2 linked regions of the Homo sapiens genome follow. The protein of the gene in region 1 interacts with the protein of each later gene in a pairwise test. Each region holds a gene or a part of one and is shown on either strand. Other genes may lie near its edges.

Evidence for each region.
Region 2: the proteins of RPAIN (region 1) and RAD51B interact in binary tests that used the Homo sapiens proteins (3 or more experiments, as listed by UniProt).

The regions. Positions count from the first base shown.
Region 1 is NC_000017.11:5,423,147-5,430,185, reverse strand, and holds part of RPAIN (RPA-interacting protein), read right to left. Parts: intron 4,216-7,039; coding exon 4,104-4,215; intron 4,050-4,103; coding exon of another isoform or gene 3,979-4,049; exon of another isoform or gene 3,957-3,978; intron 3,951-3,956; coding exon 3,887-3,950; intron 2,116-3,886; coding exon 1,975-2,115; coding exon of another isoform or gene 1,909-1,974; exon of another isoform or gene 525-1,908; intron 1-524. UniProt on the Homo sapiens protein: Mediates the import of RPA complex into the nucleus, possibly via some interaction with importin beta.
Region 2 is NC_000014.9:67,885,771-67,892,809, forward strand, and holds part of RAD51B (DNA repair protein RAD51 homolog 2), read left to right. Parts: intron 1-98; coding exon 99-218; intron 219-1,250; coding exon 1,251-1,434; intron 1,435-7,039. UniProt on the Homo sapiens protein: Involved in the homologous recombination repair (HRR) pathway of double-stranded DNA breaks arising during DNA replication or induced by DNA-damaging agents. May promote the assembly of presynaptic RAD51 nucleoprotein filaments.

The DNA of each region.
Region 1 (7,039 bases):
GCCACCAATTCTGTTTTTGAGACAGAATCTCACCCTGTTGCCCAGGCTGGAATCCAGCAGCACGATCTCAGCTCACTGCAACCTCCGCCTCCCGGGTTCAAGCGATTCTCCTGCCCCAGCCTCCCGAGTAGCTGAGATTACAGGCACCCACCACCATGTCCAGCTAAGTTTTGTATTTTTAGTAAAGATGGGGTTTCACCATGTTGGCCAGGCTGGTCTTAAACTCCTGACCTCAGGTGATCTGCCCACCTCGGCCTCCCAAAGTGCTGGGATTACAGGCGTGAGCCACCGTGGCCAGCTGAGACTGGCCAATTCCTTGTGAGGAATCAGGCTGAATGAAGTACACGGCATATTGTAGTGCTTGGTAAATATTTGTGCAAATGATCCTTAAATGTAGTGGGAGGAGTCAAAGTCATTCAGACAGAACAGCCTAAACAACAGCACAGAGGCCTGAAAGCACTGCATATTTGAGCATCTGCTACCAGTGCTGGATAGCTGGAACAGAAGGGAACATATGCTTGTAGTCAACAGGAAGTAGTGAGGGGTTTTATTTAAACTTTCACCTGCTATGTCTCTTTCCATACAAGCTGATGGAAAATGGCATCCTTCCACCAAGGCCTGAGCCTGGAGCAGGAAACAGCAGGGGCACTGGAACCACAAAGACCTGGGGTCTAACACCAGCTCTATCGCTTATTAGTAGTAAAATTTTGGCCAGATTACATCACTTCTCTGAATCTGTTTCCTATTCCTAACAGGAACTATCCTCTCCCTCATGAACCTAATGCTCCAGCTAAGTAGAACAAGATGCTCTTTGTATATACTCCAGTTTCCTGCTTCTCTGCCTTGTTCTTCTATGTGGGGATCTTCCACTTAAGCTCTACCCCCACAACTCACCAGATCTCCATGTCTGTCCAGATCGATTCCATGCTTCAAGGCCAAGTTAAATGCCTCCTCCAGGAAGGTGTCACCATAAAGGAGATCACCCTCCTCTGAACTCCCATAAGCCCTCCTTGTACAGCTCTCCAGGGTACTGCCTGTTTATTCTGTTCTCTTATTACCAACCCAAGGCTTGAGCTCTGTGAGAGATGTGTATTTCTCAATGTTAATGAGTCCTCAATTCATTTTTTTTTTAATGAATGAGTAGAATACCTATGGAAGAAACTTGATAAAGGTGAAATGGCTGTTACCAGGCAATGCTGCTTATAATAAAAATGACCTCTGTAGGTTAACTGCATTTGGAATGACAGGGCCATGAAGGAATTCTAAATTCCCAGTAGAAAGCCATGGCTATGAACTTCCTGAAGTACAGTGTGCTCCTAATCCCAAGGCTCCCCCTGCCTGGGATCTAAAAGCAATAATAATACGTATCATATTGGTTTTATGTGTGTTTGTGTGATATATATACACATGTACATACATACATACACATATATGGAAAGGACATGGATTATAAGAGATATTGGTTCCTATAGCACGCTTCTAAGACAGGTGGTTCCCTTACCCACTTGTGTTCCTGGCCCTCACACCTCAGTTGTCACTCAGGTTAGCGAATAGCCCTTGGACCTCTGTAAAAACTCCACTGACAGACAAACCTAATGCTGCCCTGCTATGCTTCTGCCCTGTTTCCTTCCGCAAAAGTGGTGCCAGCATGGCCTATCTGGGTCTTATGACTATGAAATGACCAGCTGAATCCAAAACCACTACTACTGATCAAAGAAGAGCAGGTGTGGAGCCAGGCGTCCTAACTCCCAGACCAATCCTCTTGCCGTGATCCCATGCTGCCTCTTCCCTTCTTTCTGACTGGCCTTTGAGTCTAAATGACTTGTTACCTTCACTTTTCTATGCAGGTAAATTCCTCAGATAATAAACTGCATTAAACATTTACCTGTTTATAGGTCATTATTTCTATCAAGGTGGGAATAAAACCAACCACAGGTCCCTCTTACCACAGAGTGGGTCCCAGGAGACGCTTACCAGACAGCTCATGAGAAGACTGGACTTTTCTTCTGTTCCTCCAGTGACTGAAAATTCAGGTGTGTGGGGACAATGTGCACTGTGCTCATTTATACTACCCTCTAAACAGGCACGAAGCTTCTGCTCTGTCAACTCAGAAGACTACAAAATAAAAAAGTTCAACCTCCTCTCAGTGACTTGATAGCCAACAGATGGAAAATCCTCATTCCTCATGCCAACCAATATAACCGTGGCTCACTGTGATGGCTTGACTCCTTGGAGCCTTAAAGACACTCGGGCCCATGACTGTACCAAGATCTCTTAACCCATCTCCATTTAACTGCCTCTCCAGATTAACCAACGCCCTCTACTCCTGCTGTCAAACACACTGATGGCCACTCATGGCAGGAAGAACGCTCAGAGATTGTAGGCTACTTTCCAGCCTCCCTCTGCCTCTGCCCCCACCAGCTGAGTGCATCCTTACCAACAACTAGCAGTATATGCTCCCGGGTCTGCTTGGGTTACTTGAACTTCCTACTGTAACTCAGTAATGCTAATTACTTATTATGTAAATAATAAGTTTTATTTTTATAGTGATAAGTAGAATGTTTAGGAAACAAACAGATGAGCTGCTTAAAAAAAAAAGAAAGAAAGAAAAAGAGCTATAGAATTAGGTAAAAGATGGGGAGGAAAAATTCCTAAGTTGTATACTCAGTTTCTTGATCCACTTTATGGAATTAAAACCGGAAACTCTGGACTATGTATTATAGAAGTTGTTTATGTAAAAAAGGTGACTCAGCGAGGCACAGTGGCTCACGCTTGTAATCCCAACACTTTGGGAGGCCAAGGTGGGCAGATCACCTGAAGTCAGGAGTTCGAGACCAGCGTGACCAACATGGTGAAACCCCGTCTCTACTAAAAATACAAAAATTAGCCAGGCATGGTGGCACGTGCCTGTAATCCCAGCTACTCAAGAGGCTGAGGCAGGAGATTCGCTTGAACTCGGGAGGTGGAGGTTGCAGTGAGCAGAGATCACACCACTGCACTCCAGCCTGGGTGACAGAGTGAGACTCTGTCTCAAATAAAATAAAAAATAAAACAGGTGACTCAGCTCTCCAATCAGCAGGGCCCCACTCAAAGGCTGGCAAATAAATTTATGTGTTTGAAACTTACCATAAAACATTTTATTTTTATAATTTGCCTCTTTAACCAATCGCTCAATTAACTGGCAAACTTGCAGTCCCCATCATGCCAGATAAAAGGGCTTTTTCTGTATTTTAAGATTACTGAAGGCCGGGCGTGGTGGCTCACACCTGTAATCCCAGCACTTTGGAAGGCTGAAGTGGGTGGATCACGAAGTCAGGAGTTCGAGACCAGCCTGGCCAAGATGGTGAAAACCCATCTCTACTAAAAATAAAAAAAAAATTAGCCGGGCGTGGTGGCAGGCACCTGTAATCCCAGCTACTTGGGAGGCTGAGGCAGGAGAATGACTTGAACCCGCAAGGCAGAGGTTGCAGTGAGCCTAAATCACGCCACTGTACTCCAGCCTGGGCAACAGAGTGAGACTCCGTCTCAAAAAAAAAAAAAAAAAAATTACTGAAGCTTAAATTCTGAATTAGGTATGTCTTCATATATAGAAAATTTTTATGAAACGTCAGATACAGGCGTTACCAATCCCAAGCTGAGGTCTCCATAAAAACGTTAAGCGGTGATGGCTCTCCAGGGCCCTAAAGGCTCTGATGTGTACTGTTTGCCAATTTTCATGCCATAGATATTCTCACCATGGCTGATTTGAAGCTACCAATGTGACACCACTGAACATAAAACTGGGAAGAAATATGCACAATGGGCTCCAAGTCAGCACTGGAGGATCTTCAAGAAAGTAGATCCATGTGGGAAGAAGTATCATGAAATCTGTGTGTGGAACACTCACATGAGATGGGATGGACAGGCCACACTGACACACCACCACACCGCTTGTGATTCTCAGGTTGTACCTAGAAGCAGAATTAGGATCCCAGAGCATCATGGCCACCAGACCTGGATCTCCAAACCTTGAATTTCAGGCAACAAATCTGGGGGGAGATTCCACTCACCTTGGAGTGGGGAATGGGAACGAATAATGCTGAAAAGGTTTTAAAAACTCTTACTTTGTACATACAGGACAGATGAGTGGGTTTGCCTCCCACTCAGCCAGCATGATGCTGAGACACTTTTCATCAAACTGCAAGCTCTTCTCATACTCGCTGATGATGGACTGCTCTGCAAGGCAAAGGCAGTTGGAGGGCTTCACCATGCTTCAGCTGGCCCTGTATTTAATTCTAAACTTCACTGTCAAAGGCTTCCTTCACACGAGGGAAAGATTTGGGCAAGACCACAATACCAATGACTGGTTTTTATGCTCTCTCAGGCTGGCTTCATCTTGCTGGATTCCTCTCCCTCCTCTCTGTCCCCTTTTTGTGAGCACAAGAGGTGAAGTAGGCTAAGGGCCGAGGAGACAATTTTCACACACATCTCCAGAGGCCATAGGAGCACAGATACAGAATGTCAGGGTCCCACAGGCAACTAAATAAAGTTGACAAAGAGAACTGATTGCTGGCCGGGCACGGTGACTCACACCTGTAATCCCAACACTTTGGGAGGCTGAGGCAGGCAGATCACTCGAGGTCAGGAGTTCGAAACCAGCCTGGCCAACATGGTGAAACCCATCTCTACTAACAAACACAAAAAATTAGCCAGGCATGTGGCGCACGTCTATAATCCCAGCTACTCGGGAGGCTGAGGCAGAAGAATCACTTGAACCCAGGAGGCGGAGGTTGCAGTGATCCGAGATTGCGCCACTGCACTCCAGCCTGAGTGACAGAGCGAGACTCTGTGTCAAAAAAAAAAAAAAGAGAGAACTGATTTCTGATGCCAGGACGACCCTGCTGATTCCACATACTTGGAATCTGTGTTGTTCAGAATCTGTGTGCTCATTCATTCAGCAAACATACAACAGTACCTAGTATCTGCTAGTCACAGGGGCACAAAGATGAAAAAGACTGTCATTGTTGAGCTCACAGTCTAGACATTAGGGAAGGGGTCAAAAAACTACAGTCACGCTTATTTGTTTATGTAGTGTCTATAACTGCTTTTCCACTAGAACTGCAGAGCTGAGAAATTGTGCCAGAGACCACATGGTCTGTGAAGTCTAAAGTATTTGCTATCTGGCTCTTCACAAAAAGTCTGCCAACTTCTGCTTTAGAATGTTCCTTATGGCTGAGTACAGCACAACACAGTAAATCCTTGTCACTTCAGACTTATTAGTTAAGTATGCCCCAAAATAAAACATTTGGTCAGGCTTATGTTTCACCACTAAGATAGGTTTTGTAGGTGGGGGAAGGGAAAATCAATAAAAAAAGATGATAACTTAAGGAATTTACAGTCTAACCAGAGTCGACAGCAACAGTCATTAACAACTAACACTTGCATGGCACTTATGTGTCAAATGCTATTTTAAATTCCTTACATATATTAACTTCTTCACTATTATTATCCTTATTTCAAAGGTGAAGAAACTGAGGCACGGGGAAATTAAGTGCTTTGGTCGGTGCCACACAAATTAAAGTAGTAAAGCCAAGTGAATGTTAGAGGTATGACTCAAGAGCTTGTGCTCTTGCCTCACCATAATAATAGCTGTTGATTATTGAAAGCTCTCTATATGCCAGACAATGCACTAAGTCTTCTACACACGTTATTTAAGCCTTACAACAAATTTATAGGGTATTCTCTCCATTTTATAGGTCATAAAAATGAAGCCTAAGGCTGGGGGCCATGCCTCATGTCTGTAATCCCAACACTTTGGGAGGCTGAAGTAGGAGGATGGTTTGAGTCCAGCTGTTTGAGACCAGCCTAGGCAACATAGTGAGACCCTGCCTCTACAAAAAAATTTAAAAAATTAGGCTAGGCATTTTGGCTCATGCCTGTAATCTCAAAACTTTAGGAGGCTGAGGTGGGGGGATCACTTGAGACCAGGGAGGAGTTCGAGACCAGCCTGGGCAACACAGTGAGACCCTGTCTCTACAAAAAAATAAAAAAATTAGCTCGGTATGGTGGTGCACACTTGCGGTCCCAGCTACTCGGGAGGCTGAGATGAGAGGATTGGTTGAGCCTAGGAGGATGAAGCCACAGTGAGCCATGATTACATCACTGCACTCCAGCCTGGGCAACAGAGCAAGAACCTATCTCAAAAAAAAAAAAAATACATAAATAAAATAATTTTTTGTCTTGTTTTTATCATCTTTAGCTAAAAAAAAAAAATTAATAAAAAAAAATTAGCCAGGGGTGGTGGCACACGCCTATGATCCCAGCTATTCAGAAGGCTGAGGTGGGAAGATCGCTTAAGCCCAGGAGGTCAAGGCTGCAGTGGGCCGTGATCACGCCACTGCATTCCAGCCTGGGCAGAGACCCTGTCTCAAAAAAAACAAAAACAAAAACCAAACAAGGCCTAATCAAATCAGGGCTACATGGAATAAATGACTTAACTATATAAGGTACAAAATTATGCTCTCTACACCATGCTATGGACACCTCCCTCAAGGAGTGGATGCTCACAGGCCCTGGGGAGTTAATAGAGAATGTGGCACTTAAAATGAATAGGGCAAGGGATCAGACCATGCACTATCACTGTATCCTGTAAAATGGCAGGTTTACTTTTTTTTATTTTATTTTTTAAAGTGACAGGGTCTCCCTCTGTCAGCCAGGCTGGAGTGAGGTGGTAAAATTATAGCTCACTGTAACCTTAAACTCTTGGGTTCAAGTGATCCTCCTGCCTAAGCCTTCTGGCTGAGGGAGGCTACAAGTATTTGCTACCACACCCAGATAATTTTTTTTTTTTTTTTTTTACTTCTGTAGAGACAGGATCTTGTTATGTTGCCCATGCTGGTCTTGAACTGGCCTCAAGCAATACTCCTGCCTCAGCCTCTCAAAATGCTGGGATTACAGGCATAAGCCACCACCCTCAGTGAACTATTAACCCATTAATAGAGAGGCAGGATGGTAGAAGAAACATGGGAACTGGATTCATACAACTGATTTTGCTTCCCAT
Region 2 (7,039 bases), on another chromosome or scaffold:
GGCTTAGGAGTTTCTCAAGTAAAATTAATTAGAGATTCAGCAATGTGGCTTTAAGTAGAATTGACTGTTTTCGTTTGTGCTATTTTTTTCACCCACAGACTGGTTGAAATAGCAGAATCCCGTTTTCCCAGATATTTTAACACTGAAGAAAAGTTACTTTTGACAAGTAGTAAAGTTCATCTTTATCGGGAACTCACCTGTGATGAAGTTCTACAAAGGTATGCTGCTTTAGATTTTGATTTTTTAGTAATGCGTTGAAGGTTTATGTTTTATCTTTTATGTTTCAGCTTCTAAGTGAAAAAAGTCTTTATAGGTTAGAATTATGTGGAGTAACTTTTTCAGTGTTCTTCTTTGTTATAGCCTTTTGGTTGAAGTCTTTCTTGAAAAACAAAAAAAATTAAATGAATAAAATGTTCTGTATTTAATTAATTAAGTGGTGTATTATTTATCTATTGTTTCATTAACAAATTGTCTCACAGTTTAGTAGCTTAAAACAGCAAATACATATTATTTCACATAGTTTCTGAGGGTTAAGTGTCTGGGAGTAGCTTAGCTGGGTGTTTCTGGCTCAATGTCGCTCAAGAGGTTATAGTCAAGCTGGTGGCCAGGGCTGCAGTTATCTTAAGGCTTGACTGGAGCTGGAGTACCTGCTTCCAAGCTCCCTAATATAGTTGTTGGAAGCCCTCTGTTTCTTGCTGGCAGTGGGCAAGAGACCTTTGTTCCTTACCGTCTGGGCCTCTCCATAAATCACAACATAGCAAGTTGCTTTCCTCAGAGTAAGTGACCTGAGAGACTGGGCAAGTGAAAGAGTACCCAAGATGGAAGCTGTAGTCTTTTATAACCCACACTCAGAAATAAGGTACCATGATCTTGTCATATGCTTGTGGTCATACAGATCAAGTCTGGCACACTGTGGGAGGGACCTATACAAGGATGCAAAATACCAAGAGGAGGGAGTAAGTGTGGGCCATTTTGCAGACTGGCTACCACAAGTAGTTTTACCCCAGAATTGGAGCGTTAACATTATCTTAGGAGAATCAAGGAATTCTGAAACTACACAGAAACAGTTTGCTCTGTTTCCAGAAAAGTATGATATGTCTACAAGTTAGGTTTACTGAATTCTTGCAAATCATTACTGTAACTTAGGAAAGAATAGTTTATTGTTTTTAAGTTGCTTAGCCTTTGCAATACCTTTATTTATTTATTTTATCTTAAATTTATTGACTATTTTATAAATTCTTCTTTTATAGGATTGAATCTTTGGAAGAAGAAATTATCTCAAAAGGAATTAAACTTGTGATTCTTGACTCTGTTGCTTCTGTGGTCAGAAAGGAGTTTGATGCACAACTTCAAGGCAATCTCAAAGAAAGAAACAAGTTCTTGGCAAGAGAGGCATCCTCCTTGAAGTATTTGGCTGAGGAGTTTTCAATCCCAGTAAGTTTTTCTTTTTTTCTCTTTTTTCTTTTCCTTTCTTTTGTTTCTTTTATATTACATTCACTGACTTATGGTATCAAATAATAAAATTAGAGGAAAATGTAAAACAGATGACTTTTTAAAGGTAGTACAGTCTAATTGCTATAGCAAACATCGCCATCATCTTAAATTAGCTCATCTGCTGAGATTATTTTATTATTTTAATAATTTGAGTCTGGAGTAGATTTAAACGATGTTTTTAAAAGTTCCTATAGTCCCTCCTTTTCTTCCTTCTCATTGTTTACTCTTTGTGTGTGCTTTGTATCACATTTCTCACACTGCAGTAAATATAAAGTAGTAAAACTTCATGAAATTGCCTAGATCTATTTCTATATAATTAAAAAAAATACTGCAGTTGTTGTTAGTTTTGTTTTAAGTATTTTAGGTTTAGATACTGTGTTATTGTGTTCAGCGCTGTTTTGTGTACAATAGGATTTGGTTTGCTTCAAATGGTCAGAGGTCAACCATTAAGAGATGTTGGAATGATAGTAATGAAAGTGTCAGTAAGAAAACCTTGAAAGATTATTTGTGGCATGGCTTTTTGTAGCGGGCATTGTGATCAGAAATCTGAAGATGACAGGCTATTACAAGGGCTTGTGATGTGTAACCTGCAAGACGTAAGTGTGTACTAAGTTACACTCCCATCTGCAGTGTGTCAGGGAGTTTTAGTCGTTGTTCCACAGCCTCATCAACATTCAGGCTTCTCAATTTTAGTCATGCTTCATCTCAAGAAAAGATAGTTCCTTAAACTGAGATAAAATTTGGTTATGATTTTATAATTTTTAGATTTGTTTTTGGAAAATTAAAATCTTGGATCTTTGCAACATAAAGAATATGTATAAATAATATAAACTATCACACAGCCTTTGAGGTTTATAAAACCAAGGAAGAAGTCAAGGGAGAAAATATGACATTCAAAAAGTTCTGCATACTTTAATGGCTTTTTAGTTTATATTTTGAATTAAAGTCAAGTGCTGTTAAGTTTGTCTTGGGTGATGTTCATCTTTTACATTTTATTGTAGTTGGTTAAAATGATAAATTCAAATTTATATTTTTCCTGATCAAGGAGAATAAGGGAACTTTGAAATACTGTATAAAGATACTTGATTGAATAGAAAGTTATGTATATAGTTGGCCCTCTGTATCTGTGGGTTCTGCATCCATGGATTCAACCAACTAAAGATAGGAGATATTTGAAAAAGCAATGGGTGTGGTAGTGTGCCCCTGCAGTCTCAGCTACTCAAGAGGCTGAGGTGGGAGGATCACTTAGGCGCAGGAGGTTGAGGTTGCATTGAGCCATGTTCATGTCACTGCACTTCAGCCTGGGAGACAGAGTGAGACCCTCTCTCTAAAAATATATATATATATTTGAAAGAAAAGAAAAGGATAGTTGTCTTTGTACTGAACATGTACAGACTTTTTTCTTGTCATGATTCCCTATAGTTAAGCAGAGATTTACATAGCATGTACATTGTATTGGGTATTATAAGTAATGTAAAGTTGATTTAAAGTATACCAGAGAATGTACATAGATTATGTGCAAACACTGCACCATTTTATATGAGGGACTTGAGCATCCGTGGATTATGGTATCTGCAGAGGAGTCCTGGAACCAATCCCCCATGGATACAGGGGGATGACTATATATTCTTATTTTATTATTAATTCATACTGTTGCTTGACTTAATTCCGTGCAAAATAAAATTCACTTTTTAAATGTTGTGTTTGTTTGCTTTTAAGTAGTAACTGTAGGCTAATGCTTTTCAGTTTTTCCTAAGGTGATTTATTTTCCCAAGTGAGAAAGGGGCACTGCTTTTCTTTGTTTTTAATAGAACCCTCTGAAAAAATAGGTACTGAATATCCCATTTCTATGCCTTTGGCTTTGTTTCTCTATTTAGAAATAAATGCAGATTATACTATGTACTTATATAACTGTGATATCTGTTTTTTGTGACAATTAAGATTGTAAGATTGGTTTTAAAAGGATTTTGAAAAATATTTCCTTTAGAAAATGTTGGAATTTTCCTAGCTAAATTGATACATTTAAATGGAAAATCTCTCACACAGGTCCGAGATTTAATTAAAAAAAAAAAAAGGAAATCATGAACTTTTACACATTTATACTGTACTTTGAACAGGCACCATAGTACTGTTCAAATTAATTATGTCAATTTAATATGTTATATATGATAATTTGCTAAATTAAATTATTGCTTGCTATATATATAAGCTTACCTCACAGATTGTCTTGAAATATGTATATAAATATAAATATATAAAAATAAAAAATATATATAATAAAAATATATAAATATATAAAATGTGATTATTCAGCTTTTCCCCCCCTTTCTCTATTTGAACTAGTACTAGAAAACCTCGTCTTTTGGGAAGGGTGACATCATTTGGCCCTTATGTGCGCATGAATGCATTTAAGTTTTAAGTATGCTGTTGCTTTTTTCTACGTTAGTCCCTGAGAATTAAAGAGGAATTAATCGATATCACTTGATTGAAAACAGATGTATTAATATCTTTCAGAAGTTTTCAATTATAAGATGGCTTTACTAATATTTTGAGGCTATCACTGAAATGAAAACATAAAATTAAAAAATTTTCACAGAGAATTTTATAGACCTTTGAGTATGTTCAGACTGCAGTTTTGAGAAACAGTTGTAGAAGTCTGGTAGAATCTTTTCTCCTGAAGTTTATGGAGGAGGTGTAAGTGATACTCTGCCATTGGGATGGAAGATGCGGAACCTTTGTCTTTTTAAAGTGTTCACACTAGTATTGAAAAAACAGTAGGCTCTGAAGCTGTTTAGAGATACTGGATAAAAGTAACCGAAAAAAATTTAAATACTGCTTTATAAAATAAATTGTGGTTATGGCTATTTATGTTGACTTTATCATTGACTTCTAATTACCACGTACAGAATAGTTATTATACGTATTGTAAATTATGTATCAGATTAAAATAATAGGATGTTTTTGCCAGAAAGGACCTTAAAGAAAATTTAGTTTGGCCCCTTCATTTTACAGATGACAATGAATCCGAAAAGTGACCTGATTTGCTCCAGGACACTCAACATAGGAAAGGACAAACAGTGGGTAGAATGAGAGATCTTTTAGCTGCCAGTTTGGGGATTTTTTTTTTTCCACAGCAGAATTTTCTTTTTTTCTGAGACATACAGAATTACGGTGGACTGTAAACTTCTTTTTATTTATTTATTATTATTATTATACTTTAAGTTTTAGGGTACATGTGCACAATGTGCAGGTTAGTTACATATGTATACATGTGCCATGCTGGTGCGCTGCACCCACTAACTCGTCATCTAGCATTAGGTATATCTCCCAGTGCTATCCCTCCCCCCTCCCCCCACCCCACAACAGTCCCCAGAGTGTAAACTTCTTAATGACAGGATTATATTTTCTGTTTCTCTGATTTCCAGGACCTAGCACTGTGGATAACTAATATTTAGGAGGTAACAGCTAATGAAAGTACAATTAAGGTTTATGAAAATAGTCTTACCATATGTATGTCATATTTACATTCATTGGAATATTTTTCTTTATCTTTTAAAACATAATTTGAATTTTTTTATGCTTGCTGCTGAAATTCTTATGTTTTTGTTTTTAAATTGACCTTTGTAGTATGCCATCTTAGTTGTATTCTTTTTATTTATTTTCCATTCCAGAGTTTTATAAGTTGTTGGAATAAAAGAAAATGAAAATGCATTGCTTAGATAACAGGACTTTCACCTTTTGAAAATTCTTTGGAAATGCTTTTTACTGGTATTTCCAAGGTCTACATTTTTACTTTTTCAGAGAATTCAACAAATCAATTTCAGTTGTTATATGAATAATATTGAACTTTTTTGTCTCCCCTTAATCTTCTTCTACTTCCTTCATTTCTTGATATTGTACAAATGTTTTCTGGTGTAAGGGGAGGAGTACCAGTTAACACTATTTACAAAAGAGGTTTATGGAGATAAATTTGGATATATTATTAAATATTCTAAGAGGGAAATGCCTTATTTTCATTGAAAGTTGTTGTTAAAATCCAAATTATTTTACTAAGATGTGCTTATAATCCGTTTTTCTGTGGCCATCTGTGTTCTTGATTACATGCCTTTTGAGAATATCCATTGCTCTAATTTATTGCTTATCAAGGTTTTTGGAATATTAGTGATTATTTTTATGTTTAAAGCTGCTTAGACAAATGAATCAAAATATGTGCATTTTAAATTTTGCTATTTTAAAGACAGTTTTAAATCATTAACAAATGGAAAGAATTTGTTCTGGTTTTAAAGTGGACATATAACAAGGTTAAATTTTTTATTATTATTTGAGACAAGCACAAATTTTTTTTTCCTCTTTTTAATGGTGAACTTCATGTGGGCCTGGATTTATTTATTTATTTATTTATTTTACACCATGAGCTGTTCCATTATGCCAAGTGGGTTTAATTTATGCAGGATTATACCTTGTCTTAGATACTAATAAATATTCAAAATAGAAAAATAAGAAACTAGGCCACTTCATTTAAAATAATTAAGGTTTTATTAATTATAAATTGGGAATATTGTGTTTATAACTGGTGAGATAAGAGGAAAAAGAATGTATGTACCCAAATTCGACATTTATTTTTATCTTAAACATAAATATTCAGAACTGTCACTTTTGTGAAAGCCTGATGAAGTCACTCTGATTGTAAAGTAGGAATCCTAGACCCTTGATGTAGACATAGATATGCCATTAAAACTGCAGTCCTGTTTTGCTGTGTGTAACATTGTTGTATCACTTTTCTAGAAATGTAATTTTTGGTTTACTCTTATTACTTTCATATTTTTACTGAAAACAAGCACCACAGGACTTCTGAGGTAAGAAAAGTCCTTTACAGGATTTTTCTTTTCCATAAATGCTTACTGTTGGCTCACTCACATTTGAAATCAGATTGTTCTTAAACCTATCCTATGTTCATTCAGGTCCCTGAAACTCACAGTCTAGACTAAACCTTTATCAGTTAGTGAAAATAATTCTAGAAAAAGTGTATCTTTCTTTTATGTAGCTCTTTATGACTTCTGAAACTTTGTTTTTATTGTTTCTAGCAAAAACCTAGAAACAACTTAAAAGTTAGTAAGTAGGTGATTGGCTAAATTAATGTTGACATATCCATACAATATTATATTGTGCCACTGTTACAATGAATGGTTTAGCCCAGAAATGGATTCATAGGTTATGCAGGCAAGGGTTAATTCAGCTAGCATGGGTTACTCATATCCAGCCATTCCCAAAAAAGGCCTCTTTTCAGGACTGCCCTTGCCTGGCTCCTGGGAGATGAGTGCTGGGCCCTGGGAATACTCTGCCTAGTAAGGGTGTTATATGCCTGAGGACTTGAGCCACAGGTACTGGTTTGATCAGATTGTTTATGCAAACAGTGTGATTTATGGTGAAGCCTATTTTTCTCTGGGGATCTGGGGACTACAATCTAAATAGCTGAGGTCATCTGCATGCAGGCATTGCATGCCTAGTGACTGACCCTCAATAGAAATGCTGGACATTAAGGCTT